Linked DNA regions of Homo sapiens. The protein of the gene in region 1 interacts with the protein of each later gene in a biochemical or structural test. Each region holds a gene or a part of one and is shown in the gene's direction. Other genes may lie near its edges. The genes, in order: PPM1B, MAP3K7, IKBKB, PPARG and SIRPA.

Region 1 (6,854 bases):
CCACCGTGCCTGGCTATGGTTTGGTTTTAGTATGTCTTTTTTTTTTTTTTTTTGAGAGAGAGTCTTGCTCTGTCGCCCAGGCTGGAGTGCAGTGGTGCCATCTCAGCTCACTGCAAGCTCCGTCTCCCAGGTTCACGCCATTCTCCTGCCTCAGCCTCCTAAGTAGCTGGGACGACAGGTGCCCGCCACCACGCCCAGCTAACTTTTTGTATTTTTAGTAGAGACAGGGTTTCACTGTGTTAGCCAGGATGGTGTCCATCTCTTGACCTCATGATCTGCCTGCCTCAGCCTCCCAAAGTGCTGGGATTACAGACCTGAGCCACTGCGCCCGACCTAGTATATCTTTTAAAAAGCAACTTCTCTTCCCCAACTGTCACTACTATAGCAATTCACAGAAATACAGGTGATTAATAATGTAAGTGTCAGTTGGAAAGCGAGAGGTACTTTATCTGTTGAACTTGCCAAAATTGACCCAAATACGACAAATGGAACAACCTTTCATCCAACCTTATTAATAAGTCCACCTCCAAATTGAGTCATGCCATTTAGTCTATATCAGTGATTCTCAACCCTGGCTGTATATCAGAATTACCTGTCAGGCTTTAAAAGAACAACCCAAATCCACTGAATCTGTGTATTTTGAAATGGAACTTTGGCATGTGTGCAATTTTAAAAGCTCCACAGGTAATTCCAATGTGGAGCAAGGGTTGATAATCACTTTATGTGTAAATCTTTGAAGCAGATTTTGTTTTAATGTCCTGTAATTTTTTTTTAATAAAATGGTAGGTTTTTATCTTTTTTTTTTTTTTTTTTTTTTTTGGTTTGGGGGTTTTCGGGGGAAGAGGGTTGTAGGCCCTGCATTAAAAGGTCTTTGTGATATACCGTAAAGTAGAAAATTTCCTCTTAAAGACTGACAAGGTTTATCATTAGAGTATACTTATCACATGTTGTTCCATCTCAACCCTTCCTGAATAGATTAAAATGGGAAACTTTTTATTTATTTATTTATTTATTTATTTATTTATTTATTTATGAATGAATGAATGAATGAATGACAGGGTCTTCCTCCATTGCCCAGGCTGGAGTGTAGAGGCATGAACATGGCTTACTGTAATCTCAACCTCCTGGGCTCAAGTGATCCTCCCACCTTAGCTTCCCAAGTAGCTGGGACCAGAGGTGTGTGCTGCCACACCTAATTTTTTAAATTTTTGTTTTGTAGAGACGGGGTCTCCCCGTGTTGCTCAGGCTGGTCTCAAACTCCTGGGCTCAAGTGATCCTTTGACCTTGGCCTCCCAAAGTGCTGGGATTACAGGCATGAGCCACCAGCCCTGGATGAGAAACTTTATTTAGGGAAACATGTTTTAAGTCCACATAATAAATTTTGCAATTAAATGACAGCTAATATGCTTGTTGTGGAAAATTGGAAAATTCAAAGAAAATAAAGTATCTAGAACTCCCTACCCATTATCATTATATTGCTGTATTTCCTTTCTTTCCAGGTATTTTTACATATGCTAACATGAACAGATACACAGACGTATATGTATCCAAAAAGCATGGGCCATACACAGTATCATCTTTTTTTTTTTTTTTTGGAGATGGAGTCTTGCTCTGTCGCCTAGGCTGGAGTGCAGTGGGTGTGATCTTGGCTCACTGCAACCTCCACCTCCTGAGTTCAAGCAATTCTCCTGCCTCAGCCTCCCGAGTAGCTGAGATTACTGATGCACACACACCATACCTGGCTAATTTTTGTATTTTTAGTAGAGATGGGGTTTCACCATGTTGGTCAGGCTGATCTCGAACTGCTGACCTCAGGTGATCCACCCATCTCAGCCTCCCAAAGTGCTGCGATTACAGGCATGAGCTACTGTGCCCGGCCCAGTATCATCCATTTTTTGCCATGAGGATACTTCCCCGCCCCATCCCCACCACCACCCCGTCTGAGGCAGGAAAACAAGCACTTTTTTTTTCTTTTTCTTTTCTTTTTTTTTTTTTTTTTGAGATAGAGTCTCACTTTGTCACCCAGGCTGGAGTGCAGTGGTGCGATCTCGGGTCACTGCAACCTCCGCCCTCCGAGTTCAAGCGATTCTCCTGCCTCAGCCTCCCGGAGTAGCTGGGATTGCAGGCACTTGCCACTGCGTGCTGCTAATTTTTTGTATTTTTAGTAGAGATAGGGTTTCACCATCTTGGCCAGGCTGGTCTTGAATTCCTGACCTCGTGATCCACCCGCCTCAGCCTAACAAGCCCTTTTTTTTTTTTTTTTTTTTAAGAGGGTCTCACTCTGTCGTTCAGACTGGTGTTCATTGGTATGGTCATGGGTCACTGAAGCCTCAACCTCCTCGACTTAGCTCAACCTCTCGCCTCAGTTCCCCAAGTAGTTGGGACTATGGGCGTGTTCCTTTTAAACATTTTTTGTAGAGATAGGGTCTCATTGTGTTTCCCAGGCTGGCCTAGAACTCCTGACCTCAAGGAATCCTCCTACCCGTCTCCCAAAGTGGTGAAATTGCATACACGAGTCACTGCTCCTGGCCAATGAGGGCAACTTTTTAAAAAATAACATTCATCTGCTCTCATTTTTCTAATAAAACATTGCCATTTATTATATGGCTTTATTAGTGTTATCTTTGTTGCAAAAGTATATGTAATAGTCTCTAAAGATGGTTAAGAGTTTGTGTCACATCAACTGTATCAATAACCTATTTTGTATTTTATTTTCCCAATATTTTAAGATGAAAACTTCCAAATGTATTTAAAAAGGGGATATGATATGTTGGAACAGCTGTATATTGTCTCTCTAGATTCAACAACTGTTAACATTTTGCCATAGTTGCTTTATTTTTCTTTTTATATCTACTGTTTTTTTTCTTTCTTTGACTGAACCCTTTGAGAGAAAATTGCAGACATCATATTTTACCTGTAAACATTTAAGCATGCAGCTCTTAAGAATGAAGATATTTTTCAGCCAGGCACGGTAGCTCACACCTGTAATCCCAGCACTTTGGGAGGCCGATGCAGGCAGATCACCTGAGGTTGGGAGTTCGAGACCAGCCTGACCAACATGGAGAAACCCTGTCTCTACTAAAAATACAAAATTAGCCGGGCATGGTGTCACATGCCTGTAATCCCAGCTACTCGGGAGGCTGAGGCAGGAGAATCGCTTAAATCCTCGAGGTGGAGGTTGTGGTGAGCCGAGAACATGCCATTGCCCTCCAGCCTGGGCAACAAGAGTGAAACTCCATCCCAAAAAAAAAAAAAGAACGAAGACATTTTTCTGTATAACCATAATACCATTATTATACCTAAGAAAATTCATTTTTTTAAATTTATTTTTAATTTTTGTGGGTACACTGTAGGTGTATAAAAAAATAAATTGTATAATATTGAATATCAAGTTTAAATTTCCCTAGTTGTCACTAGAGTGACTATTGTAATTGTTATTTTGAATCCCAGTCTAATCAAGTTTATCAATCAAGCACATTAAACAAGTCTTTAATCAGTCAAGCCCCTCACCTGTTTTTTTCCCCTTGAAACTGACTTTGAAGAATCTGAGCCAGTTTTTTACAATACGTCCTGCATTCTGAATTCATATGATTGTTTTCTCATGTGTGCTCTAACTTGATCCTCTATTCCCTTTTTTCCTGTAAACTGGGAATTAGCATTATTAGATTCATTCTAAACATTTTTTGGCACGAATACAGGACATGACTGTACTTTATAATGCATCATATCAAGAGGCACATACTGTAAAGATATCTTTATTTTAGTCTGTCGGCTTAACTGTGATCAGCTTGGATGATTAGAGCTTGTTCTGTACAGTATTAAGTAGTTACTATTGTAGAAACCTGTAGATTTTCCAAAATTCACTAAAATATGAAAGGATTGAGTAGTTTATTATTCATACTGAGAATACTTAATTTATTTTTATCTAGAGATGTTTTTATCAAAATAAGAGCAAAAAGTAAATACAATTTTTATCCGTAAAAACTCTAAAATCTTTCAAAAATCTGTTTAAATCTATATAGTTTTATGTTTTGTATTTCCTACTTATTTAGCAGAAATGATGAAGAAACTGTTCTGATGGCCTGCTTTTCTGTCCTTTTCCTACTGCTTTAAACATTGATTTTCTTTTGTACTAAATCATATAGCCAAATATTGTTTAAGTAAGTCAGTTTTAGGAAATGCTTGTGTTGCTGTTGAATTATAAAAGCTGAGTAAATTTCAGATTAAACTTTAAATGACTGTGAAATAAGACATAAACTAGTTAATGGTAATTTGCTTAAAATGACTTGAGATTATTATTGGAAGTTTTTATTAATTGATACAGGTAAGAATTGATATTTAATAAAATGTTCTCATGCTTAGACTATATTACTTTTCGGTAGAGAAATTAGTATTTTGCTGTAATGTGTTATGAAATACATGTGATATCCTAGTTTGTCTACTGACACTGGGGTCTTGAATCTTAAAAAAAGGCCTCCGATGAAGCAGAGGAAAGTGGATCACAGGGAAAATTGGTGGAAGCTCTCAGGCAAATGAGAATTAATCATAGGGGAAACTACCGACAACTTCTGGAGGAGATGCTGACTAGTTACAGGCTAGCTAAAGTAGAGGGAGAAGAAAGCCCTGCTGAACCAGCTGCCACAGCTACTTCTTCGAACAGTGATGCTGGAAACCCAGTGACAATGCAGGAAAGCCATACTGAATCAGAAAGTGGTCTTGCTGAATTAGACAGCTCTAATGAAGATGCAGGGACAAAGATGAGTGGTGAAAAAATATGACTTTCCTTTTTGGTAATATTTTTGTGATCTTTGATGGTTTTTAACCTAGGAAGTGTAATGTATGCATTTATATAACTGTTTTGTTATTTGAATCTTGGAAAACTAGTTTTATTATATTCAGATAGCCTTGTTTTTTAAAAAGGCCTTTGCATACACCTTTATGAGATAGTGTAAAATTGACTATTTATAGTACTATGGATTTAATGAAATTATATGTCATTTCACATTGTATGCCAGAAATTAGGCTACCAATTATGAATTAAAGTCAGTAGTTAAATTAATACTAGATAGAATTAGAAATTTTGATTAGAGAGATTATGCTATATTATGGAAAAACTTGTTAATGTAGAATTATACTGCTTCATATTATTTTACCTATTAGTACACTCATAGTTAGCTTTGTAATAAATTTATGTTTTCTTTAATAATTTTAGTTCTTCAAAGAATGGCTGATGCTGGCCTGTAATTTTTCTTTCAAGGATGATAATTTGTGTGTTGTTTGATTTGTTTATATTTTACATCTCTGTAGTTTTATTTTTAGAAGTTGTGAGATATTGGATGTGTGGCTATTTTTCCTTTCTCTGTATTCTTTATGAAACATAACTTTTGAAAAACCTATGTATTATTCATACAGCTTTGGTTTGTATATTCTGTATAGCCTAACTACACACATCAAAATGTATGTCAACCAAGTGTTTAGAATGAAATTATAAGTGTTTAAGTCCAAATAAAGCATGTGATGTGGAATAATCTATGCATGTTGTACTTATTTTTGAATTAATTTTTTAAAAACAACCAAGTTTGGTATATTGGAAGAATACCCATTAGAAATTCATTTGTATTTATATAACATTTAGAACACTTTTGGCTTACCTTTTTTCATTAACAAAAAGGAAAAGTTTAATATTAAAATATATGTGTTGCATACTTAAATCTATTCTTTTTCTTATCCATCTTTTGTGGTACAAAATATTAATCTTTGGACATTATGGGCACACATTAGACATGTGAGAAAATTGCCACAGTGAGCATTTTAAAGATTGCAGAATTGTCCATTTTGTTACAAATTTTTGTTAGTTATTAAGAAATTGAACAATTATGGGCTATTTTTAAAATAGTGGCAGATGAGAGTTTTTGTTTAAAGGGATTTTTAAATTATAGATTTGTCACATAGGGAAAAATATTTTTTAAAAATTATTTTATAACTGTAGAACATTAACTTTTCGTCTTTACGTTTATATTTATATCATGTGTCTAAAGTTGCTTTAAGTTACCATAAATTGAAACTTCGGAATCTTTGGATGTTATAGCTGATGTTTTGATGTATTTTTCCAATGCCAGAATATTTTTAAGTGCTTTGAGAAAGGAAGGCATTTGATGGAGAGGGGAGGAAAATAACCCAACCCAGTTATCTATCCATATTAGATACACGTGTACACACACAATATGCAATACACAACATCTCTCTGTAAAAGTACCCTTTTCAGACAAAGAAAGGAAGGTAATTTGTTCATCAATTTTGTTTTCTTTTGAAATTCAATCCAATCTGGAAGTGGCATAGGTAAATAATAATATTCTTCCTTTTCTCTTCCTGTAGGGTGCTGGAGATCTAGAAGACCCATGGTAGCCTTAAAAACCTTCTAAAATGCTTTTGATTCTGAAAATTGGGGGAAAAAACTTTTAATCACAATTTTCTTCAATACAAGGGGAAAATATTCTTGCGGATTCCCAACGTTTTGTGATATGAGCAGAAAATCATTAGCATTTCCCATCATTTGTTCATATTTGTGTTTTCTGACAGTTGCCACTTGTAGCATTGCCTGTACTACAGTATTTTTTGCCAACCTCAGGCATACTCGTTACATCTGTATTGAACTTTCGGCCCTAGAAACCAGTGGAGTTATTTCACCACAAATCAACAATGTGCCTGAGGTGCATGGGAAATATAGTTAGCTATACTCTGAAAATACATTATGTTTTTTTTCTTTAAACAAAACACACAACATGTAAGCATGTAAGAGTAAAGAATTGTATGATATGTTCCTTTTTTCAGTTCACCAAGTTGGAAGCCTTTTG
Region 2 (6,256 bases), on another chromosome or scaffold:
AAAAGCTTGATTTCTTATTTCACTTATTTAACCTATACTTTTGCCATACTTTAATCATTTGAAAGAAGTATTCTATGCTGGAAAAAACAAATGGTGGATTAGGGTGTTGGCTGTGAAAACTATGACAGTTTTAATCAATTTTAAATACTTTCAGAAGTAGTATTAGTTAGTTATTTTGCTTGAGGACTTTTTATTAATTATTCATTTATATCCAGTAACCTCACTTTAGGAAATGCCTAAAGATGCATCTTTTTCGGGAATACTTAATAGTTCCCAAATAAGAGGGACTTAAATAAGTTTATCAGACTATAAAAGAATGAGGGTCTTTCCTGAAAGTGCTTGCAAATGTAAGTGTTTTAAAAGAAGTGGTACTTTGTCATTTTTCTCACTGCTTTAAAATGGGAAAAAGCTTTAAATTGGATAGCATTTATTTTAATTAGATTGCAAATTTGCTATTAGCTTACCACTCTCTGCTATAGTTAAGTAGGATTGTGACTTCAGAATGTGAATCAGTATAAAAGTAGAATGTGAAGGATAAAAACTTCATGATATTTTCCCATAGCCACATAGAACCCTTCCCAGCCTTTTTTCATCCTTCCTACACAAAAAGAGGATAGAAAATGAAATTTTCTGAAACTTTTATTTTACCATTTTATCTGCTTCGCTAATTATCCAAGTACAGTTACTTAATAAAAGGATTATGTTATTTGTATGATTACACTAGAAGTAGATGAGAGTTCCATCCCAGCCCATAATTATATTTGATTAGTGTACCTAAGATGCAAAATGATAAACCAAGAATAAAAATTCTCATTAATTGAGCTTCCATCATCAGCTACTAAGGTATGAATTTTTCCATCATGTGTAATATTATGTGGTATTTGTTTGTAGGCAAGAACTAGTTGCAGAACTGGACCAGGATGAAAAGGACCAGCAAAATACATCTCGCCTGGTACAGGAACATAAAAAGCTTTTAGATGAAAACAAAAGCCTTTCTACTTACTACCAGCAATGCAAAAAACAACTAGAGGTCATCAGAAGTCAGCAGCAGAAACGACAAGGCACTTCATGATTCTCTGGGACCGTTACATTTTGAAATATGCAAAGAAAGACTTTTTTTTTAAGGAAAGGAAAACCTTATAATGACGATTCATGAGTGTTAGCTTTTTGGCGTGTTCTGAATGCCAACTGCCTATATTTGCTGCATTTTTTTCATTGTTTATTTTCCTTTTCTCATGGTGGACATACAATTTTACTGTTTCATTGCATAACATGGTAGCATCTGTGACTTGAATGAGCAGCACTTTGCAACTTCAAAACAGATGCAGTGAACTGTGGCTGTATATGCATGCTCATTGTGTGAAGGCTAGCCTAACAGAACAGGAGGTATCAAACTAGCTGCTATGTGCAAACAGCGTCCATTTTTTCATATTAGAGGTGGAACCTCAAGAATGACTTTATTCTTGTATCTCATCTCAAAATATTAATAATTTTTTTCCCAAAAGATGGTATATACCAAGTTAAAGACAGGGTATTATAAATTTAGAGTGATTGGTGGTATATTACGGAAATACGGAACCTTTAGGGATAGTTCCGTGTAAGGGCTTTGATGCCAGCATCCTTGGATCAGTACTGAACTCAGTTCCATCCGTAAAATATGTAAAGGTAAGTGGCAGCTGCTCTATTTAATGAAAGCAGTTTTACCGGATTTTGTTAGACTAAAATTTGATTGTGATACATTGAACAAAATGGAACTCATTTTTTTTTAAGGAGTAAAGATTTTTAATTCTGTGATTGTGTGTATGTGTGTTGAAACTGTAAAGCTTTTATGACTCTAATATTAATCTCTTAAATGAAATTAAAAGGCAAAAGAACATGATTGAGCTTAAATGATCATTTCTTCCTGCAGTGATTCTTGGATTGTTTTCTCATGTATTTGAAAAAAAAAAAATGAAGAAAAATAATGGAAAATGGAAGTAATTACTCCAGCTAAAAAAAGCTTGGACTTAGATTTCTTTTTATGATACCAAATGAGAAATAAACCAGGCAAATCAGAAGGAAGTTAAAGAAGCAAATATAAATTCAACAAGTGTCCTAATTATCCTGGATATTGGAATATTTGATTTTCCTTACAATCCCGTTCTAGAATGCCTGCCGCCTTTCAACACTTTCAAGAGAATTTCAACACTTACAGAGTATTTATATTGTTAACAGTAATTTTGCTACCAAAACCTTCAGAATAACTTTAATAATAAAATGACACTGAAATAATAGACTATACAAACTCTATATTTTTTCAGTTGGTGTTAAAATAAGTCACATTTTGATACCAGTACAAGATGTCTTTTAAATAAGGATGTCATCAGTCTGATTTTTATAGCATTAATGTTTTATGAAGAAAAAGTTCAAAATGAAAGCATTAATTGCTGTGATTATTAGAATTCTATCATGACTGTATTGTAGTTTTTGCTCTATTTCAGATAAGCAAGATCTAAGAAGTTATCAAAACTATTCTTTAAAATGCTAAAGCAGGTAACTTTTTCTTCCATTATTTTTTCCTCCTACCACTGAGTTTTGTAATGAATTCCTTGTGTATACAAGCAATACAGGTGAATACTAAACTGTTATTTTTAGCTTCTTCAAAAGCTATTTTAGAAAGCTTCCTGGAAATAAATGTCTTCTGTCATTTAATTTAAATAAAAGGAGTGTTAATTGTTCCCAAATTTGATTACCTAGCTGAAACAGATATTGGATTCAGCATAGTAATAGTAAAATAAAATTGGCAGAGAAAATAACTGTAGACTAGGATAAAGCATGACTCCTCCATAGCATTGTTGCTTGTATGTACATCTGTCACTCCACTGAAAGGGACCTAGTCACTTTAAAGAGGCCTTTTATCTCAGCACGAGATATCCAAGCGTGAATGCTAAGGCTTGATGTTTCCATTAGGATTTAGCATTCGAGATTTCAGATTTTATTTATAGTCATTGATGTGTTTTGCTGTATTATAACACATTTAAGGGAAATTTTATTATGGTTTTTACATGTAGTCATTTCATAAAAATATCCAGATAGGTAAATGGAAGAAAATAGTAGATTTTAGTCATGGTACCAAATGCAAGAGGCTGTTGAACAGTTGCTTGTTTGTTTACAGTAAGTTCCTTGAGATTTTCAGTACTGTAGTTGCCCTGGACATTGAGTACAGTTCAGCCTTACTCTGTTTTTAAGTAGTTGTGTTGTCAATTTCATGCTTTTAAGTCCTGATGATCCTTGGAGATGGGAGAAAAAGATACCAGGGATAATTAAAATCCACAGCCAGTTTCATCAGTTTCCTCATCCATCCTGCAAATAAAAATGTTAACAAGGAGCCAAACTTATTCGTTCTGGTTTTACAATTTATTTTGACCGTTTTTTGGGTGAAAATTGCAAACAGCCAAGCAAGTGGCTGGAATGCCCCAGTCTAAGAAATTCAAAAACAATCACTGAGTAAGCCCTAATTACATTAATTACATTTTACTCTTGACTCCAGGAAAAGAAAGCAAGCTTTTATCTAATCTAGAGGGAAGTATTCGTGAGCAATAAAAATCACTTTTTTGAGTTGAATAATAATCAGTTAAGAATATTTACCGCATAGCAACACAACATATAAAGATTTGTTACAAGTTGTTTACGGATGTTTGACTATTTTTGCTGAAGTATTTTAGAGTATTGAATGTCTTCTCTCTTCAAGTTTCTTTCATGTTCCTAATTTCAGCTCCTGTAGCCAGAGATCACAGGTCTTCCCTGTGAAACTTTGGTTTCTTTCTATAAATGTGTGTGGTTTTCAGCGCTCAACTCCTGTCTTCAAATGGTAGTAAGTTCTACTTCTACTTCTGTCATTCAGAACATTTTATGTCAAATGATGTAATGCAGAAATTCTTGTGCATATTTGTAACTGAAGGAAGCTTTTTAGATTTATTTTTGTTTTTAATAAAATTCAGATTCCTATTCTAAACTGGTACATAAAAGTGGTGAATGACTTGTATCAGCAAATGAGCTGCGAAGTGTTCTGCTCTAGCACCGTGTTTACCTTACACAGAACCTACTAAAAACTGAAATGTCACTTTTGTACGATAATCATGGTTTTTAAGAGGCTGGGTAATTGGCCAGTTAACACATCATCTCTTGCATTTCAAAATTTTGTGTTAAATGGAGCTCTTCACAATTTCATGAGTCCTAATTTGTGTGAAGCACAACACGTCATACATTGCTAAGTGATTCTTCTCATCAGAAAGCTGATTTCTTAGAGTATTTCTAAGTTAAATTAGGTATTTCATTCCTTTATCAACCTGCTGGCTTTCCAACCCTAACATATGCACACATTCTTATAAACTCTACCTTCATTTTAGTAAATCCATCCATTCATTTGCTCATTCTTTTAATAAATATTTGTTTATCATATATTATAAACTGCACTGCTATTACCAATACCAAGTTACATGTCCATTCCAGTCACACAGTAGTTTGATGGTATTCCCATCTTACAGATGGGAAAATAGGCTCCTAAAGGTTAAGACTTCTGCCTGAGTCTGCTTTTCCATCATCATCTGTTTCAGGCAGAATCTCATGCATGGGGACACTGTGGCCACTATTAGTCCATGATGCGAAGAAGAGCATAGGAAAAATCTTAGATTGAATGGCAAACAGAGGAATAGAACGAGATAACTTATAACTAGAAGATGCAGGGGCTTTGTGACCGCTCTGTAGATAGCAACAAAGCCAACATGGAGACCCACCCCCATGTCTTTTAAAACCCAAGTCTATGATCTAAACAAATTTGCCATGCTGTAATTTTAAATGCTCTCCAAATTCTGAGGTGATTTAGCTTTCACATTGACTTATTTGGCAGGTGGGAGATCTGCATTGTTTTAAATTGGGGTATAATTCATATATGATAAACTGCATCCAGTTTTTTAAAATGCAGATATCCTACCTGCCAAATAAGTCAGTGTGAAAGCTAAATCACCTCAGAATTTGGTGAGCATTTAAGTAAAAGTGTGCTGCTTACAGAGTTTTGACTTATGTATTCACTTGTGAAACCACCCCAGCAGTCAACATCCTCAGTATGTCTACCAGCCCCAAAAGTACCCTCCTGCCCCTTGCAATTGAGCCCTTCTCTCACCCCAGTCCCCAGACAACCACTGATCTGCTTTCTAACAATATGGATTAGTTTGCATTTTCTACAGTTTTACATAAATGAAATCCTAAAATATGTACACTTTACTTCTTAAGCCTTTTCCCCCACTTGAATAGTTTTTGTAATTCCTTTGAGAGGAATTTTAAGTTTTCTGTTGTTTTTCTTTTCTTTATTTTTTTAAGTTGCAGCTGCTTTCTGCTTGCTCAAAATCCCAGCAAAGACTAGGTTGGTTGTTATGCCACAGAACAATTGGCAAAACAATATTTTCAGTAACAGTGAAGATAGTCTTTGTAAAAATGTTTGACACTATCTCATACAGATGCTGTCAGTGGTCCTTCCTGATATGGTGGTGCACGCAGAAATAATATTTGCATTGGCAGATCATGTAACACTTAACACCAGGCTCTATGCTCCTTTTCCATCCATGACTAGACACTGGTCTTGGAGGTTCTGACACCCCCTGCCGTGCATTTCCACCAAAATGGAACGTCAGTTTAAATGACCTGCCCATCTGTTACTTTAGGCAGCCTTTAAATCAGTAGGTTCTATGTTATGCATAACTTGAGTCTTCCAAAATACATAAGACCACTTTTAAATGAAGCTTTTTTGAGAAATGAATGGCTATTTAACTGTATTTGAGTGTCATGGTACTTTCAAATTTCCAAGTCATGAAAGGCATTACTTTTCCTTTAATTTAATGGTTAATGATATCTTATCAGTGCCATGTAGCAGCAGGATCATTGCTTTGAAAGCACCAGAAATTACTGAGTAAATGCTGGATATTTATATTCTGAAAAGCAAAAGTAACTTACAAAATGCAGTTACTTTTCAGACTTGTTGCGTGTTTCTATTTGTGGATACCTCTTCTTTAGTTATTACTGGAATGATTACATTAATCATCGATTGGCTCATTTACTAAATTCAGACTAGAGACTGAAGAAACCTGAAACTGGGTGTAACTTTGGTTGTAGAATTAATGGTGGTATTCCCTCATCACATGCTCTAGAACCATTTTGGCTTTTAATCAGTTTCCTACAAAGGTCCTTAACTAAATATCCATCTAAAATGTGATAGACATCT
Region 3 (6,256 bases), on another chromosome or scaffold:
AAGAGAGTAGCCAGTGAAGGGAGCCCCTCTGTGGCCAGATGCAAGAGCTGCATGAATGGACAGAGATGGTCCAGGTTTAAATAAGAAGCAAGGGTTAGGTTCCCTTGGGGAAAAGCCAAGACCATTTCCTGTTAGGAAGGGCATTGGATGGATGATCAACACTCCCTCTTGTCGAAGGTTTTTGACTAATTTTGTTGGGATGCTAAATCCATAGGAAATAAAAGGTCTAGGCAGAAAGTCTCAGGGCAGCGTAAATCAGATGTCACCAAAAAAAGTTAATTATGAAGGCAAAGGAAATACATGTGACTTAATGAACCTCACACAAACTGAAGGTTGAAGTCAGGCTCCGGGGCTTTTTCCTGGACTTATCCTCTGTTTTCCCCTGTGTACTTGGGCAAGGATCTTCACCTGTGTCTTAGTATCGATTTTTATGAATCAGTACTGATGGAGTATATGTGTGTTTAATGGTGAATATTAACCATAGAAGGGCTGAGTGCTCCTCCCCATCTTGGGACTCATAATCTGTGAAATAAAACAGTCTGGGCCTCCCTGCCCGGGTAGCATCAGGATAGACAGATGAAGAGAAGAGAAAGTAATGTGTCTTGGGCATCTTCTGTATGCCAGGCACCATGCCAGAGGCTTTAAGTACTTCATCTTACTTGACTCCTCAGATGGCCCTGTTAGAAGCCTATTTTATGCAAAAGGAAACTGTAGCTGGGGGTAAGTAACTTGCCAAGGGGTCACACAGCTAGAAAGCGGTGGACCCTAGATGCAGGCGCAGCCATTCAGACCCCACAGTCCACATTCCTTTGAGCCAGTCCATTGAGGGTCCTCAGGGAATGTGGCGGGTCCCCTGGTCTCGCTCCCCCGCAGATCTTGCATCTCAGCATGCGCCTACCACATCAGTTGACATTAGCACAGCTTTTCCATTAGGAGAACGAAGTGAAACTCCTGGTAGAACGGATGATGGCTCTGCAGACCGACATTGTGGACTTACAGAGGAGCCCCATGGGCCGGAAGCAGGGGGGAACGCTGGACGACCTGTGAGTACTGGCTGGGGGGCCCCTCTGTGCCCAGCACACACAGACAGCCCTGGAGCTTCGGTGTGTGTGTCAAGGGCACCCTCAGTGGCTGTGCGGGACCATTCTCTAGAGCATGCTTCCCTGTGGGGTCACTTCCAGCAAATCATCACTGAGCTTCAGTTTCCAAATCTGTTCAGTGACAAGAAAAACAGTCTTAAGTCACGAAGTTGTAAGGATGAATTCAGATAATGCATTTGAGACGCAGGCCATAATCTGTAAAGGCTGTAAAATGCAAGCAGCCTCTACCCCTGTAGCAGACTCCCCTGATTTGTTCCACCCACCCTGACTCAGGCATAGCTCAGAGCAGAAAGTAAAACAGAGAAGGAAGAACCTGATGAGGCTTAGGAGTTTGGACCTGGAAACTATTCGTTTGAGTCTTTGTCAGGTATTTGGCATTGGCTCCATGAGGGGCGGAGGGGTCTAGGCAGATCACTCCTACCTGAAGGAGATCACATGTGCTCCTGGCGTACAGATGGAGGGAACCAGGCAGGCCGCTTGAGGGCTGTGTCACCGTGAGCTCAGCAGTGTTCCCTGATTCTCTCACTAGGATTCTTAGGACAGGAGCTCCAAATGTCAGAACTTTGATTCTGTATTTTCTCTAATTAACCCTTTATTCTCCTCTAGTTCTTTTATTTGTATTTGTATTATTTTTTTAAGAGACAGGGTCTTGCCCTGTTGCCAATGCTGGAGTGCAGTGGCACAATCATAGCTCACTGCAGCCTCGACCTCCCAGGCTTATGCAGTCCTCCCATCTCAGCCTCCCAAGTAACCGGGACTACAGGCGCATGCCACCATGCTCAGCTAATTTAAAAAAAAAATGTTTTTGGCTGGGCACAGTGGATCACATCTGTAATCCCAGCACCTTGGGATGCCAAGGCAAGAAGATTGCTTGTGAGCCCAGAAGTTCGAGACCAGCCTGGGCAACATGGTGAAACTCTACCTCTACCAAAAAAATGTAAAAATTAGCCATATTTGACCTCAAGTCTAGACAGAACTTCTTTGTATATTTTAGAGAGGAGCAAGCAAGGGAGCTGTACAGGAGACTAAGGGAAAAACCTCGAGGTAAGTGGGGTTCTGTGTCTGCCTTGGGCTTCTCCTTATCTCATTTATGGGGCATCACTACTCTCTGCTGGCTTCCTTGAGGAACTATGCTACCCTCCCTCTCTCCAGACCAGCGAACTGAGGGTGACAGTCAGGAAATGGTACGGCTGCTGCTTCAGGCAATTCAGAGCTTCGAGAAGAAAGTGCGAGTGATCTATACGCAGCTCAGGTATGAGCCCCGACCTTCCTGCTCTGGAGGAAGGACTGGGAGATGCAGGTATGAGGTCACCTTCCTCCCTCCTCTCTGATTCGCTGGACCTCATGAAGAGAGTTTCTGCAGCTGCTGACTGGATGCACAGCTGCCACAGGTTCTGCTTTCTCCAGCCCAAATGCCATTAGTTTGCCATGTTTATTCTTTGCAGTAAAACTGTGGTTTGCAAGCAGAAGGCGCTGGAACTGTTGCCCAAGGTGGAAGAGGTGGTGAGCTTAATGAATGAGGATGAGAAGACTGTTGTCCGGCTGCAGGAGAAGCGGCAGAAGGAGCTCTGGAATCTCCTGAAGATTGCTTGTGTGAGTGAGTGCTGTGGTCCCGGGCCCTTGGCCTAGCAGCCTCCTGTGCCTTTCCACCTCTGTGCACTGCCGCCATCCCACACGGGACACCACAGAGCCACCAGCAGCCCACTCAGCTGCTGCTCGGGCTTCACGTCGCTGTTCTTTGACTTGGTGTAAGCGGGGAGGTCAGAGGAAGGGCCTGTGCTAATTGTTTTCATTCATCTGTGTATTACTTTCGTGTGGCTACTGTAAAGATTAGCACAAACTGAGGGGCTAAAACAACAGAAATTTGGGCTAGGCATGGTGACTCATGCCTGTAACGCCAGCAATTTGGGGAGGCTGAGGTGGGAGGATTGCTTGAGCCCAGGAGTTCAAGACTGCAGTGAGCTGTGATCATGCCACTGCACTCCAACCTGGGCAGCAGAGCTGTCTCTACTAAAAACAAAAACAAACGTGTTATCTGAGCTCTAGAGCCCAGGAGTTGAAAGTCCCGTGTCAGCAGGGCTGAGCTCCCTCTGAGGGCTCTTGGGGAGGGACTGTCCTTGCTTCTTCCAGCTCCTGGTGGTTCCAGGCGTTCTTTGGTGTGTGACTCCAGTCTCTGTCTCTGTCTTCATGGGACCCCTGTGTCCCTTATCTGGGTGACTCTTACAAGAACACTTGTCATTGGATTTGAGTCCCACCCAAGTAGTCCAGGGTGATGTCATCTCAGGTTCTCTAAAGACGCTTTCTCCAAGTACGGTCACACTCACAGGCTCCAGGAGTTGGGATGTGGGCATATCCTTCTTAGGGCCACCAATTCAGCCCACCGTCATGCACGGCAGTGCAACTTGGTTGACCATCGTCTGCGTCTGCACTGCCCTCAGTGCAGTAAGCCACGCTTTCTGTGCACACCGTCTTAACGTAGCTGTGAGTCCATGGGATGCCACATGGTGGGGAAATGGGAAACAAAACAGCCAAGAACTGAGACGGGCAGGCCTGGCCGTGTTGTGGGAGCCAGAGCTGTTGGGACTGCAAGCCCCATTGTGAAAGGCTGCAGAGAAGGTGACATGGATGAAAGAGTGATTTAGGTGTCAGTTTCCCTTAAGAGCAAAGGGAAGGAGAGAGGGAGATGGTTGCTCATGGTGGAAGCAGGAGATGGTGCATTAGGAGATTCTCATTGTCAAAGGCAGAGGGGACAATCCACACACAGTGCAGAGAACAGAGGGGCTGGGGTCGCATGCCAGAGCACTGAGCATGCCTTGGGAGCGTGATTGACACATCCTCCTGTAAGAAGAGAGGAACGGGAGAAAACAGGATGACGAGGTAGAGAGGATCTGAAGAGGAGAGGGAGGTGCAGGTATGCGCAGGTGATAGCCTGATGTGCCATCTACATCCATTGAGCATTTACTGAATGCTAACTATATGCCCAGCAAGACACACAGGTGAGAAGGCATGGCACCTGTTCCCAGGAGGGCCTGATCCTTCAAGGGGCACAGACAGAGGCATGAGTGAGAGCCGTTCAGGGCAGGAAGGGCTAGGAAGCAGCTCCAGGAGGCATGAGCTGCAGTTTCTGTGCACAGGGGGAGCTCCAGCTTGTCTTAGAGGAGAGGGAGCAACAAGAAGGTTCACAAGGAGCTGTTCCAGCTGAAGAGTGAGGATGTTCCAGGACAGAGACACTGCTTTATCAAAGGCAGAGAGCCTGGGGAGTCAGTGTGTTCTGAGTGGGGACAGGCTGGTGTGTGTGGGGAAGGCCACAATGGAGGATGAAGCTGCTGAGGTAGGCAAGGGTGAGCTTACGTGGGCCACGCTTCATTTTCTTTTTTTTTCGAGACAAAGTCTCGCTCTGTCCCTTAGGCTGAAGTGCAGCTGCTCAATCTCAGTTCACTGCAACCTCCACCTCCCGGGTTCAAGTGATTCTCCTGCCTCAGCCTCCCAAGTAGCTGGGACTATAGGCTCATGCCCCCACACCTGGCTAATTTTTGTATTTTTAGTGGAGATGGGGTTTCACCATGTTGGCCAGGCTGGTCTCGAACTGGCCTCAAGAGATCTACCCCCCTTGGCCTCCCAAAGTGCTGGGATTACAGGCATGAGCCACCGCGCCTGGCCTATGTCCATTTTCAAAGCACACAGGACACATGGCAGTATCTGTCTTTTCCCTTGATATTAAAGGAACTTGAGTGTAGGGATATGATCACATCTGGGATTTGGGGAAGTCCCTCTCCAGGCAGCTGGAGGATCTGAGTCCCTGGCCAACCTCAGCACTGAGAAGGGCCGCTCAGCAAGGCTGGAGTTGAGCCGCCGCTGTGCAGCACAGAACAGGGTGGGGCAGGAGCTGGGGCAGGGCCTGGCTGGGAGGGAGCCAGGCAGTGCAGGAGCCATCCCCTGCCATACTTTCGGTCCAGGGCAGAAGCACAGGAGGCCAATGCCGGGCCTCTCCCCAGGCATGGTCAGCAGGGAAGGTGCAGCAGGAGGACCAGGAACGGGAGGCTTGGGTGCTTAACATGGCTTCTTGATGTGTGGGCCTTGAGGTTTCGCTGGAGGGGAGGATGTGGAGCCAGGATGGTTCCACGGCCTGAGGGACACGTGAGGGGATGAAGGACTGCAGGCCGAAGTGAGTGTCAGGTGTGGGGCCTGGGGGGCTACATGGGTGGGTTGGGGACCATGCAGGGCAGAGATCAGCAGAGGGGTGACCTGAAGATTGGCCGGCGGTCGTGGGCTGTGAGCTGAGGAGGCTCAGGTAGCTGGAATGGGAACCCCTGCTTGACCCTTCGGGCTGGGAGGGGCAGTGGCTGCAGCCCCTTGGGAGTCAGGGTGTCCTTGTTTCTTCTCAGCCAGGTCATAGAGGATGCAAGCCACAGGAATTCCCATAGCCTTTGTGTGTGTGTCTGTCTTCTACCTGGAAAACAGTAAGAATACTTTCCTGTTCTTTTCTTGTAAAAGTTCATTAAGGGGCTGGATGCAGTGGATCATGAATCCCAGAACTTTGGGAGGCTGAGGCAGATCACCTGAGGTCAGGAGTTCGAGACCAGCCTGGCCAATATGGTGAAACACCGTCTCTACTAAAAATACAAAAATTAGCTGGGTGTAGTGGCACACACCTGTAATCCCAGCTACTTGGGAAGCTGAGGCAGGAGAATCGCTTAAACCCCGGAGGTGGAGGTTGCAGTGAGCCAAGATCGCACATCGCACTTCAGCCCAGGCGACAGAGCAAGACTCTCAATCATAATCAATCAGTAAAGCTGATGAAAATAAAAAAGCCTGCAAATTAATGTAGGCACCCAGGTCTCCTTAAATTTAGAATCCTTTCCTCAAAAGTCTCCGTTGATACAGAAACACTTTTGAAGCCAGATGTGAAGCACCAGTTGACCCGCAGGTGGGGGTGCCAACTGGTAGGCTGTAGGGTTAGCTCTGGCCTCTGGCAGCCAGCCAGTTGTCTCCTAAGAAAATACTGTGGCGTGAATGCAAAATGTGATTCATCACTTGGCTCCTAATTTCTTTTGATTTTGTCCCCTAGAGCAAGGTCCGTGGTCCTGTCAGTGGAAGCCCGGATAGCATGAATGCCTCTCGACTTAGCCAGCCTGGGCAGCTGATGTCTCAGCCCT
Region 4 (6,256 bases), on another chromosome or scaffold:
TTCTTTTCTGTTGTTGTGAGCGCCCAGATGAGATTACTTTGCCAAAGACTCTTTTCATTTCTCTTTCTGAAACTCTGTGAGATTGCTGTGTTCTCTAGGACTTAACTTCACAGCTAGTCTATTTTTCCTTTCAGAAATGACCATGGTTGACACAGAGATGCCATTCTGGCCCACCAACTTTGGGATCAGCTCCGTGGATCTCTCCGTAATGGAAGACCACTCCCACTCCTTTGATATCAAGCCCTTCACTACTGTTGACTTCTCCAGCATTTCTACTCCACATTACGAAGACATTCCATTCACAAGAACAGATCCAGTGGTTGCAGATTACAAGTATGACCTGAAACTTCAAGAGTACCAAAGTATGATGTTTATTTTCACTTTTCAGACTACTAGGACTAGAATTGGACTCATCTCTCAGTAACCCTGTAATAAATAATGCTCCAGAGACTAGAAATCTAATAGAGAAGGCATTCACCATTCATTTATTCACCCATTTATCCATGAAATATTAGGTATCTATGAAATGCCAGGAAGGGAGCTGGCACGAGGTCAATCTTGCCTTCCCCGCCCCCTCCTTCCTTCCTCTCTTCTTTCCTTTCTTGCTTACTTCCTTCTTAGGGACATTTTCTACCTTGATTACACTGTCAGTTGTATCTCAGGCTAAGAGTCCATCATCCAAACTTTGAATTATTTTGGCCCCTTATAAGTTAATAAGTAACAATTCCAAGTCACTTTGTATTATATAACTTATCTTCACTATATTACTGCTACTACAGTACATTTTTTCTAGTATGTCCTTTCAGGAGTTTATACTGAAACCTACTTTTAAGCACAAATTTGTTTTAACATTGTAGCCTATTGATAAATTTTCATGCCATTAACTAAATCAACATCAAAACATCAGACTCAAGAAAAACTAGAACTGCACTTTTTGAGATAAAATGTATTTCTGTGATGCTATTTCCTTGATTTTTATCATGTGTGGGCTGACATGCTGGTTTTCCAAAGCCACCACTATGTAATTGGCAATCATTACTTGACAAGTAAGAACTTCCTGTATTTCTAGTGGCTTTTAAAGATAAATAATATGCTTAGTTATATTTATCTATGCGGTTTTCAGTTAGAGCCTAATATGGAAATTTAGTAGCCCTGAGCCCAACTAGTAAAAGGTAGGGCTTACTTCCATAAGTTCCGCCACGCTCTGTCAAAGATTATTTCACAAACCACCTCCTTTGACTGAACACTAATGGTAACCTGGGCTCATATTTTTCATGCACCTCAAGCTAGGCATACCATGACCTTTTCACAGTGGTGTTCCTTCTGTGGTTCTTTTGCAAGTTGTTTCAAAGTACTTATAAAATGGAATATTTAAATAAAATGTATAATTTAATATTGTGATGAATACCAAAGACAGAACATTTCCTAGCAAAATAAGCTTCCTTGTCTCAAATCCTCTATGTTGTCTGTTACAGCTGTAGTATTGCAGGCTACTGGGGGTCATAGAACCACAGACTTAATTCTCATTCCCATTTTATATTTACAGGTGAGGCTTAGAGATGTTATAACTTGCCTGTGATTACAAACCTTTCTTTTTCTTGCCTTAACTCCAGTGTTTTTTCATGTTCCACTGTGCTTTTACACTGAAACAATACAAATACAGCATGAAGGTGTACTATGGTGGCTTGCCCTGTTGCCTTTTTAGGACTGTTTTCATGGGATAATTATCCTCTCACATGTCTCCATACACAGGTGCAATCAAAGTGGAGCCTGCATCTCCACCTTATTATTCTGAGAAGACTCAGCTCTACAATAAGCCTCATGAAGAGCCTTCCAACTCCCTCATGGCAATTGAATGTCGTGTCTGTGGAGATAAAGCTTCTGGATTTCACTATGGAGTTCATGCTTGTGAAGGATGCAAGGTAATTAAAAAAAAAGTCTTCAAAGAAATTGTTGAAACTTTATTATTTCATTTCAGCAGAACCCCTTTTTTAGGTGATACAATATATGAATTTTTTTTCTTCATGGAAGAGTATCTTGCTCTGTCACCCAGACCAGAGTGCAGTGGTGCTATCCTAGCACACTGCAGCCTTGAGCTTCTGGGCTCAAGTGATCCTCCCACCTCAGCCTCCCAAAGGATGATATAAGATTTGAAAGCCTAAGAAAGTGGATAAAAGTTGGGCTGCTTTGCCCCACATTTGTTTCTCCAAATTGATTCTTTGAGACACTGATCTAATTTAATCCTTGCATCTTGCAGATTTTTACAAAAAGGTGACTTCTCCAAGGTGTCATGGCAAGACAGTGATGACCTGGAACCAGGATGCAGATTTCCTGCATTCTCTAGTTGTTTATTTATTTATTTATTTATTTATTTTGCTATACCGTGTAATATTGTATAGACAGAAGATTTTACAGATTATTTATATATGCATATCTTTGGATCCCTAGAGCAATCCTATAAGATTGGACTTCTTTATGGCCACATTGCAGATGTAGAAATTACAGGTTAGTAAAACTTGCCAAGGTCATCCCTTAGTAAGTGGCAGACCGCAGTCTAGACCCTGACTCCTTAGGTGGTGTTGGCTCTCAAAGCAGTGCCTCATGTTTCCTTATTCCAGCATCAATGTGAGCCACATACACGGACAGGTAAGGAGGTATAACAGTGTGGGAAAGGAGATACTATTTATCCTCATCTCTTTCCTTTGTGAAAAGGGTATTTTGGAAAATTCAGACGTTTAGTAATTTATTGCTTAATTATTAAGAAAATATGTGAATCCACTCATATTTTGATATGCAGTCTTTTAAGATAATTTTAATATACACAATGCAAAAATAGTACTAATTTATTATATACGCATTGCACAGAATAAACTGTTCATAAATATTCACTTTATAAAATAAATACCTGCTTATTGGGCTTTTTATTCAACGTAAAGATACAGAACAACAGTTAGGAAAGTTTTAGGACATCTTGGTTCCTAAATGGATGGTGGGCCAAAAAAGGAAACTGATTTTTATTGAATTCTTACTACATGCCAAATACTGTATGAGGTAACGTTTTCATACATCAGTATTTAACCACATCCTACCCAGGTTTTCTCATCTATAAAATGATTGTGGCTGAGTGTGGTGGCTCACGCCTCTAATCCCAACACTTTGGGAGGCCAAGGCAGGAGGATCACTTGAGCCCAGGGGTTCAAGACCAGTCTGGGCAGCATAGTGAGACCCCATCCCTACAAAATTTTTAAAAAATTAACCAGGCATGGTGGCACATGCCTGTAGTCCTAGCTTCTTGGGAGGTTTAGGTAAGAGGATCCCTTGATCCCAGAAGTTCAAGGCTGCAGTGAGCTATGATCATACCACTGCACTCCAGCCTGGGTCACAAAAGCAAGACCCTAACTCCAAAAATAAATAAATAAATAAGTAAATAAATAAAATGACACTGAATTACATGATCTCTAAAGTCCCTTCAATTGAAACAGTTTTTACTCTAAAGGCAACCTAATACAGTGAAAAGGGACAAACCAGAGGTCAGCTCTGCCACTTTCCAAAGTCATTAGCCAGTCACATACACATTGTATCCTTCATCAGGCCCCCCATATGTAAAATGACTTGGTTAGATTGGCTACACAAGGTCTTATTCATCTCTAAGTTCTGTAATTTCAAAATGACACTTTGAAACACTCTGGCAAGAGATGCTTTCATTTAAAACACTAAAACCCGTTCGTTCTGTAATTTAAACCAAGTTAAAATATTTATGACCTTATATGAAATCATTGTATTAAGTCAGTTATCTAAGATCTTGATGAGTAGTAAGAACATGTCATTTTATTGACTTAGATTTTTTATTGAATGTTTTGTGGTTTTATTGAGTTTTATTTTAGATTTAATGAGTTAGAGTTTATTTTTACTGAGTTGGATACCATTTTTGAGTGAGTAAACTGTTGCTAAATTCTGAGCCATATTTATCTGAAGAAACCATTCTGTTTTGGTCATGTTGATAATTTACAACTATAAATAAATAAAAACAGCATGGTTGGTTTAAGGTTCCACAATAAGTTATTGTTTTTTATGGGCTAGTAAAGCACTTAGAAAACTAAAACTTTTAAGCAAATAGTTCCACCATAATCCTATTAGTCACAAATTTGTGGAAAGCTAACATTACTGAAAACAGCTGAAAATGGAAAGACAAGAACATTGTCAGTAGTTGGTTATAGTGATAAATCTGAGTTCTGAGGGCACTAAAACTTAAAAGCAAGCAGGGAAGAAGAGTAGCAAAAAGAGAAGAGAGAGGAGGAAATCCAAGTGCCTTCAACTTAGGATTAGAAAGGGTAGAAAGCAGGGAGGGAGAAAAAATACTTAATAAAACCTGAAGACTCTAGGGGAGTCCTTAACCTATCATAGATTAAAAAGCAAACATAGAAGAAAACTAAGCGTATTGTATACTAACCTGCAGTAATTTGCAAACCATCCAAAATGTGGATTCCAGAATTCCTAGACTAAAATGTAAGGAAGGTTTTACTCCCTTGGAAAGGGAAAATAGACATCTACACGTTTTAAAGGTAAGAATAAGAAAAATATTATTCTTGGAAAATTTAAACATTTAGTAATATACTACTTAATATAAAGAAAATATGTGAATCCACTTATATTTTGATATGCAGTCTTTCAAAATAATTTTAATATACTCAATGAATAAAATAGCATTTATTGTATACTGATTGCACAGAATAAATTTTTCATAAATATTTACCTTATAAAATAAACCCTGCTTCGGCTGGGGTTTTTATTCGGCGTAAAGATATAGAACAGCAGTTAGGAAAGAATTAGGACATCTTGATTCCTAAATGGATGATGGGTCGAAAAAGGAAACTTTTTTTGAATTCTTATTCTGATTTTTATTGAATTCTTAGTATGTACCAGATACTATGTGAGGTACATTTGCATATATCATTATTTAACCACATCCTACTCAGGTTTTCTCATCTAGAAAATGATTCAGATGATATTGGTAGGATGTGGTTACATAATGAAACATTATCATTTGGCTTCTTCAAGTATACATCAGCAGTTCCCAAAGTGTGGTCTGGGGCTTGGACCCTTTCAAGGCATCCATGAAGTTGAAACTATATTCATAATAATGATTTTTATTACTTTTTTCACTTTCATTCTCTCAGGAGTGTATGTGGAGTGTTCTGGAAGCTACATGATGTAGGATGATGACATAGCTCTGGTAGCTAATGGAATGTTTGCTTATGTGTTCTTGTATATAATAATTTCTCAGTTGTAATTTCTAGTGTGATAAATGTCAGTAAAGATAGCCCACATAAACAAAATCTCTTTGGGGTCTTCTATAATTTTAAAAAGAGTAAAGGGATCTTGCAACCATAAAGCCTTCAGTCTCATTCTGAAGAAATGCAGTTACTCATTCTTTGCTACTTTGAAACTAGACAAAATTGCTGCCACATTCTGAATACTGCTGCATTAGACCAGTGGCTGTCAGTAAAGACATCTCCTTAGCTTATAACCAATACGCAATAAAAAGCCAGGAAAATGGAATTAGCAAATGTGTTTAACTCATCTGCATGTATTTTCTGAGAGGTGTTTTGGAAGCTTCACATTTGCTGTTGTAGTAAAATGTGGGTTATATTCATAATTAAAATACAGTTGACCACAAAGCTGCAGGCTTATCTATGGATTGAAAAGAATAAACACAGCATAAAACAACTTTTGGTAGATCTTCCTAAACAATTTTACAATGTAAATGGAACAGGTTTATATTAGTGATTCTTGCCAAAAATTCAGTCAGACAGATGAGAATGAGTAGATTGGGTTTGAATTAAGGTGAAATAGTTACAGATTCTTGGGTATGTTAATATTGCAAACTTATGTAAAATAAAACCTTTAGCAACTGAAAGATATATATAATTTAGAGCTTGGAAAGCTATCATTTATTTGTTGTTTACATGTTGGAGATATATTTTTTTCTTTGGTAAGTTCCATCCTATTTTTTATCTTTAGTGAAAGATCATTTTGGAACCATAGCCGTACCTAAAGATATAAGTAAATACAGTCTACCATACAATACAATGTAATCTAAGTTTGTATTTCTGTATACAAAAGAATGCCGTATGCTTGTTAGCCACTTGTATGTCTATTCATCCCTACTTCAGAAAGAGTTTTAATTCTTCTCACCTGCCAGTCGTAGCTTATTAATCCAACTTCCAGGGGCCAGACTGCTTCATGGGAAAGCCAA
Region 5 (6,256 bases), on another chromosome or scaffold:
CTTGTTACGGCTGCCTGTAATTCCACATAGGGGATAGGCCGTAATTCACTTAACCATCCCCTATCATTGACCGGCTGGGCTTTTTCTAATGTCTTTAAGATCGTTATACAGGAAACCTACTCCATATCTGGGGTTACGTCCTCAGGGAGCAGCCCAGCAAAGGCTGGTGAACAGATTTCACACCTTTGGTTCATCCTGCCAAGCTGCTTTCCCGAAAAGATGTTCCAATTTCCCCTCCCACCGGCAGTGCGTGGGAATGCCTGCCCAGCCGCCCTCCTCTCCCTGAGACGGTTCAGGCCCCTGGACAGTCGCATCCTCTGCTAGGAGGGCAAGAGAAAGCAGGAAATAATTTGGCCAGCAAGTGACCCCAGACCCAGAGCCAGGAGTGATTTTTAACAAGCCTGATTCTCAGAACAGAACCTGCAGAGAAAAAGAAAGCAAGCAAGGAAAAAAAAAAAAAAACCCCTCTCTACTGGAAAAAACATACACATACACAGATTAAAATAATATTTGGCACTTACGTCGCACTTTTAAAATTCTTCAAACGCTTTATAAACACTAGCTAATTAATTAAGCCGCCTAAATCTGGCTGCAGTCGGTGGAGAGAGCTCGAGAGGAGCTAAAAAAAAAATGGGGGAGCCAGCGCTACACAACTCCAGATTTTATTGTCGCCTGCCTGGGGTGTGATTACAGGCCTCCGGCTGCACCACAAGAATAGCCCTGCTCCAACATGCTGCACGCCTGACTCCGCAGCCTCTCCTGCGCCTCCTGCTCCCTCACCAACTGCTGACTCACAGCCCCTTGTGGTGTTATTGATAAGGATAATAATAACTGCAAGCCAGGCTGAGTCCCGGGCTCCGGGCCTGCACCCTCCCCTGGATATGCCAGTATCAACTCCACCTAACACATGAAGAGAGAGGAGATTTGCCCAGGGTCATGGAGCCAACGACATCCTTCCTTCCTTCATTCATTACCGCATTCATTCTGCATATTTTTATCGATGACACTGTGTTTTAGGCAGGAGGTTGGAAACAGTCCCTTGTGGATCCTACATCCTACTATTGGGAATGTGACAATCCAGAGAAAATCAAATATGTGAATAATACAGCTATGTGATAATAATGGGAATAAGAATTAAAACTTACCCAGCACCTATGCAGCAGGCATACCACCGTGTCAGGGTCCTCATGACTGTGCTGGGGTGGATGCCGGAACCCCACTTCATGGATGATGGAATGGGGGTCCAGGGAAGGTGGGTACAGAGGTGGCTAAGAGGGGAGCCATGCTGTCACCCAGGCCTGCTGGCCCTAGCAACTGTGCTTCCCCGAGGCAGCCTTTCCAGTTGGTCCAGTCTCGAGGCTGAAATACAGACCTATCCGGAAAGTTCCTAGCTCAGTGCTGCTGGTGCTGCCTCTGATGTCCCCGCCTGGATGGGCCTCCCGGGCCTCCCACACATTTGGCCACCAGCCTCACCCCTCTCAGGCCGTCTGATGCTGGCTGGGCCTCTGTCCACTGTGGGTTCTGTCTGTCCACTGTGGGTTCTGTTTTTTTCTCCTGTGCCATGAAGATCTTGCCATGTTCAACTTCAAATGGAAATGAAATGAGAAGCTGGACTTCCTGATAATAAAAGCAGTTGAGGTCTTAAGTGGTTGATCAGGAAAAGGAAGTCGAAATGGTAATATTTACACCCAAAGCAGGTGGAGTGGTCTTAGGCACTCTGAGACTCCACTCACCTGCCATGAGAACCGGGCCCCAAGGGTGATCCCTTGCCAGAGTCAAGACTGGGTGAGGCTGGGAATGGGAGAAAGAGGCAGGACAATGGGCAGATAGCCCTGGGCTTCCTGCAGTGAGGGCAGATAGGGGTCTGTGAGCCTCTTTCCCTGGCTGCCCTGCCCCTGCCAGTGGGGTGGTGCCAGGCCATGGGTTGGTGGGCAAATTCACAGGGTCTCTCTCCTCCCCAGCCAGAGCCAGAGGGGCACAGCAGCTCTGGACATCTGCCGCAGCCTTGTCTGATGTACAAGGCAAAGGTGGCCCAGGTCAGGGCAGGACAAGGTCACATGAAGGGTCAGTGGAGAGCCCAACTGGGGCCCCAGGTCACCTGTCACCTGCATACCAGGTAGCTGCCACTCCTCTGTCTACCTGGTTCTCTCCTTCTCCCCTATTCTAGCTCGCTCTCTCACTCTGCGTCTGTCTCTCAGGCATGTGTTTCTCTGAGGTCTTTATGATCATGATCTTTCTTTTTTTTGTTTCTTGTACCTCACCTTGTTCAGAATCGAGGCCCTGGCTCTGCCTTGCTCTGAACTGTTCTCACTTGGTCCCTATCCATCTTCAACGCATCTCATGACAAGCTCGTCCTGCCCTCTTCCTGTCTGGGCTCCCCCCGTGCACCCCAATCTCTCCACCCAGGGTCCCTGTCTTGTGTGCCCCAGTGTCTCTGATTGGGGCTCAGGCTCCTGCAGCCAACCTCTACAATTCCTTCCAGCTGCCCATTTGGGAGCCCTTGAGGCCTGGACTGGGTCCAGCTCCAGTGTGTCCCCATCACAGTGAGGCCTGGATCACAGGGCATCAGCAGGTGTTGGTGAGAGTGAAGTTTGAGCCACAGCCACCTCCTTGTTTATTCAATGTATAGTAACAACAACTTCCTCAGGGCCCATCTCAGGGCTAAGTGACTTCTATGTGTGATCTCGTTTTCTTTTCAGAACAAAGCAGAGGCCTGGGGGCTGTTCTACCCATCCTGTAGATAAGAAAACTGAGACTCAAAACTGATGGATAAATTAAGGTCCCACAAGAACAAGGGGCGAGCCAGGTTTCAAACCAGGTCCGATGACTCTAAAGACCAGATGCTGCATTTGGACGCTGTCCCCAGCCTTGGCTTATTTTATCCTCCCAGAGATCCATCGAGGTGGGGTCATAGTAACTATTTTACAGATGAAGAAACCAAGGCTGAGAGCAGTAAGGGCAAACTAAGGGCAGCTCTTGCATTTGTGTGACACTTTGCTAGCCAGGCTCAGTCCTGGGTTCCAGGTGGGGACTCAAACACACTGGCACGAGTCTACATTGGATATTCTTGGTTACCTGAGTGGTGGCCCAAGGACACAGCTATAGGCCACTGATCCAGAACTCAAACTACATTCTCCTACTGCCCAAACCGCTGAGTACAGCCTCCCTTCTCGGGGCCTGCATCCTGGGCCAGGCCAGAAACAGAATCTTAACACCTTGTACAGCCCCAGATATGCCAGGCCCCTACCTCTGAGTCTTTGCCCAGGCTGTTCCCTCTGTCTGGAATACCAGGCTCCCTTCTGGCTCATTCAGATTAGAATTAGCCCAGCTCAGATGTGACTCTTCCAGAGAGGGTCCAGGCATTCAAACCCACTCTCTGCCATGTCATTTAGCTTTCTGTGCCTCAGTGTCCCCACTTAGAATACAGGCTCATGTTGCAGGTTTGTTGTGAGGGTCAAATGAGATGATACATGCACTATACTGATCTCACAGCCTGCTTCTGGTGTGCATCCAGTCAATGAACGTCATTGATAAACACTTGAGGAAACACAGAGGATCACGTAAGGATGAAAAAATGACTGCTTTGTGCTCCTTTCCAGGAGTGGCGGGTGAGGAGGAGCTGCAGGTGATTCAGCCTGACAAGTCCGTGTTGGTTGCAGCTGGAGAGACAGCCACTCTGCGCTGCACTGCGACCTCTCTGATCCCTGTGGGGCCCATCCAGTGGTTCAGAGGAGCTGGACCAGGCCGGGAATTAATCTACAATCAAAAAGAAGGCCACTTCCCCCGGGTAACAACTGTTTCAGACCTCACAAAGAGAAACAACATGGACTTTTCCATCCGCATCGGTAACATCACCCCAGCAGATGCCGGCACCTACTACTGTGTGAAGTTCCGGAAAGGGAGCCCCGATGACGTGGAGTTTAAGTCTGGAGCAGGCACTGAGCTGTCTGTGCGCGGTGAGTACAGCGTGGGCCTCCTTTGCCTCTGGTTTGTGACAGTAACTCAATAATAACACCCTCCATTCTTTGAGCAATGATCAGGTGTGGTGGTAGGTGCTCCTTTCCATGAATTGATGTCTCCCCCTTTTACAAATAAGGGAAGTTGAGGCCTGAAGACGTCATGCTATTTGCTGAAGGCTCCACAGCTGGTAAAGGGTGGGAACATCTGCATCCTTCATCTGCCTGGCTGTGTAGCCCTGGCCTCTTCAAAGCTGACCCAGCCCTTTCATTCCACAGATGAGGAAACTGACAGATAGTGTGACTTGCCCAGGCACAGGACCAGACCTCACCTGCTGCCTCCAGAGAGCACTTCCCTCTCAGGGCAGCCGAGTCTCCTCTATGTGACAGGCACTCACTGAGAACCTACTGTGTGCCAGGCTCCGCCAAGCTTGTGTTCTCATCCCTTCCAATAAGAGATCCACCCAGGGCAGGGAGCAGAGAGGGTGTGTTTCCTTTATTTCATCACCAAACACCAACTGAGAAGATTCCTAAAAGGCACAGATTTACTGTTTAATCTGATGGCCCTGGTGAGAGGAGAAGCCAGAGGGTTGGGCATTTTCTGTGGGTCTTTTAGAAAAACACTTGTGTGATTTAGGGACTGATTCATGCGTCACTAAAGGCTCTGAACAAAGCTGGGTCATCATAGAATGTCTCTCACCCCAGGGAGGAGGTCTCCCTTCTAGGTGACTTTGGGTTCCTCCGTTAAGGCAGCAAAGATGCTCATTTTGTATTTACTGCCAGAGCCCCAGGATCCTTGTTCTAACTCCGAATCCTGGGACATTAGTACAGGAAGGACCCTCAGACCATCCAGCCCAACCCCTAGTTACAGGTGGAAACTTGAAGTCAGGAGATGACAGGGGCCTTGTCCACAGTCATAGGCCCAGTTAGTGACAGGATCTGGACCAGAGCCCACATCTGATTCCAGGGAGGCTCCTTCATTAGCCATTGTTTACATAGAAGAGCCTGGTGCATCATAGGTGCCGACTGAAAGCTCCTTGAACAGAACTGCTAAGCAGGAAGCCAGCACTTCTCCTTTCCATCAGTTTCCTAAAGGTTCAGAATATTCACATTCAGACCGTTAGGCCCACTGGTGATTGGAAAACCGCTCCCAAATGTAAGCCATATCATTTGATACTGAGATTTCATATCAGGATAGAGACCTGCTCCATTGTGTAATAGCTACAGAATACTCCAGCTTATGGAAATACCAGATTTATTTTACCATCTTCCATTGATGGATACGTAACTTGTCCCCAAACTTGAACTATTAAAACAGTCCTGCAGTGGATGACCTTATACATGTGTGACCTTACTCAGGTGGGAGACGCCCACTGCAAGTGCCATTGCTAGATCAGAGGGGGTGTGTGTTTTAATGTGTGTGGATATGGCCTAATTTCCCTCCTAGACATTATAACAATCAAGTCTCCCCACAACCGCTGGACATAGGCAGGGAGGGTGGCTTTATCCTGATTGTGCAGATGTTACAGGAAAAGACGTTGAAGTTCCCAGATGATGCATCTCGTGCCTAGACAATCACAGCAAATACGTGGCTCAGGTGTGACCCAGATCTGCTGACTCCTAGCAGAGTGCTCACTCCTCTTTGCCATGCTGTCAGCCTAAATGATGCCCTGGATGAGAAAGGAGGGAGGTGGGAGGGGGCCAGGGAGCAGCAGCTGGATTGGATCCTCATCCTGGCACTTTCTCCTTTTATAACAAGTACTTATGAAGGAAGAGCCATTTCTTGCCCCCTTTACAGATAAGGACTCTGAGGCTCAGAGAGGAGACCTGTGTGGTGAGCCAGTGGGGGAGCCAAGGTTTGATCCCCACCAGCCTGACTCACAGCCCCTGTCTCTGTAACACTCAGCTATGCTTGTCAAAGTGTGGAGAAATGCTCCACCCTACTCATTCCAAACTCTTGCAGTTCTATAGCAATAAGCATAGGCTGAGGCAGGAGAATGCTTGAACCCAGGAGACGGAGATTACAGTGAGCCGAGATCGCACCACTGTACTCCAGCCTGGGTGATAGAGCAAGATTCTGTCTTGAAAGAAAAAACAAAACAAGTCCTATGGGAGTAGGAGGGACTGGCCCCCATCAGAAAGGTCCTGCAGATGTCTCATGATATGGGAACTTGTTCCTAAAGGACAGGTCTCAGCACATCACTGAGTAGCATCCATGGAGCAGAGTTGGGCCTCCTGCAGCCCAGCAGACCACGTGCCCACCTACTCACGGTGCTGAGGACTAAGGATGAGGAGATGAG

Evidence for each region.
Region 2: the proteins of PPM1B (region 1) and MAP3K7 form a complex in vitro, tested with the Homo sapiens proteins (one study listed by BioGRID).
Region 3: of the proteins of PPM1B (region 1) and IKBKB, one has a biochemical effect on the other in vitro, tested with the Homo sapiens proteins (one study listed by BioGRID).
Region 4: of the proteins of PPM1B (region 1) and PPARG, one has a biochemical effect on the other in vitro, tested with the Homo sapiens proteins (one study listed by BioGRID).
Region 5: the proteins of PPM1B (region 1) and SIRPA form a complex in vitro, tested with the Homo sapiens proteins (one large-scale study listed by BioGRID).

Annotation. Positions count from the first base shown.
Region 1 is NC_000002.12:44,225,941-44,232,794, forward strand, and holds the end of PPM1B (protein phosphatase 1B), read left to right. Parts: intron 1-4,052; coding exon of another isoform or gene 4,053-4,061; exon of another isoform or gene 4,062-4,472; coding exon 4,473-4,778; 3' UTR 4,779-5,532; downstream 5,533-6,854.
Region 2 is NC_000006.12:90,511,317-90,517,572, reverse strand, and holds the end of MAP3K7 (mitogen-activated protein kinase kinase kinase 7), read left to right. Parts: intron 1-891; coding exon 892-1,072; 3' UTR 1,073-3,994; downstream 3,995-6,256. UniProt on the Homo sapiens protein: Serine/threonine kinase which acts as an essential component of the MAP kinase signal transduction pathway. Plays an important role in the cascades of cellular responses evoked by changes in the environment.
Region 3 is NC_000008.11:42,319,802-42,326,057, forward strand, and holds part of IKBKB (inhibitor of nuclear factor kappa-B kinase subunit beta), read left to right. Parts: intron 1-933; coding exon 934-1,043; intron 1,044-2,094; coding exon 2,095-2,144; intron 2,145-2,252; coding exon 2,253-2,352; intron 2,353-2,545; coding exon 2,546-2,693; intron 2,694-5,485; coding exon of another isoform or gene 5,486-5,524; exon of another isoform or gene 5,525-5,560; intron 5,561-6,168; coding exon 6,169-6,256.
Region 4 is NC_000003.12:12,379,570-12,385,825, forward strand, and holds part of PPARG (peroxisome proliferator-activated receptor gamma), read left to right. Parts: intron 1-134; coding exon of another isoform or gene 135-142; coding exon 143-362; intron 363-1,752; coding exon 1,753-1,922; intron 1,923-6,256. UniProt on the Homo sapiens protein: Nuclear receptor that binds peroxisome proliferators such as hypolipidemic drugs and fatty acids.
Region 5 is NC_000020.11:1,911,500-1,917,755, forward strand, and holds part of SIRPA (tyrosine-protein phosphatase non-receptor type substrate 1 isoform 1 precursor), read left to right. Parts: exon of another isoform or gene 1-2,823; coding exon of another isoform or gene 2,824-2,902; intron 2,903-3,599; coding exon 3,600-3,956; intron 3,957-6,256. UniProt on the Homo sapiens protein: Immunoglobulin-like cell surface receptor for CD47. Acts as docking protein and induces translocation of PTPN6, PTPN11 and other binding partners from the cytosol to the plasma membrane.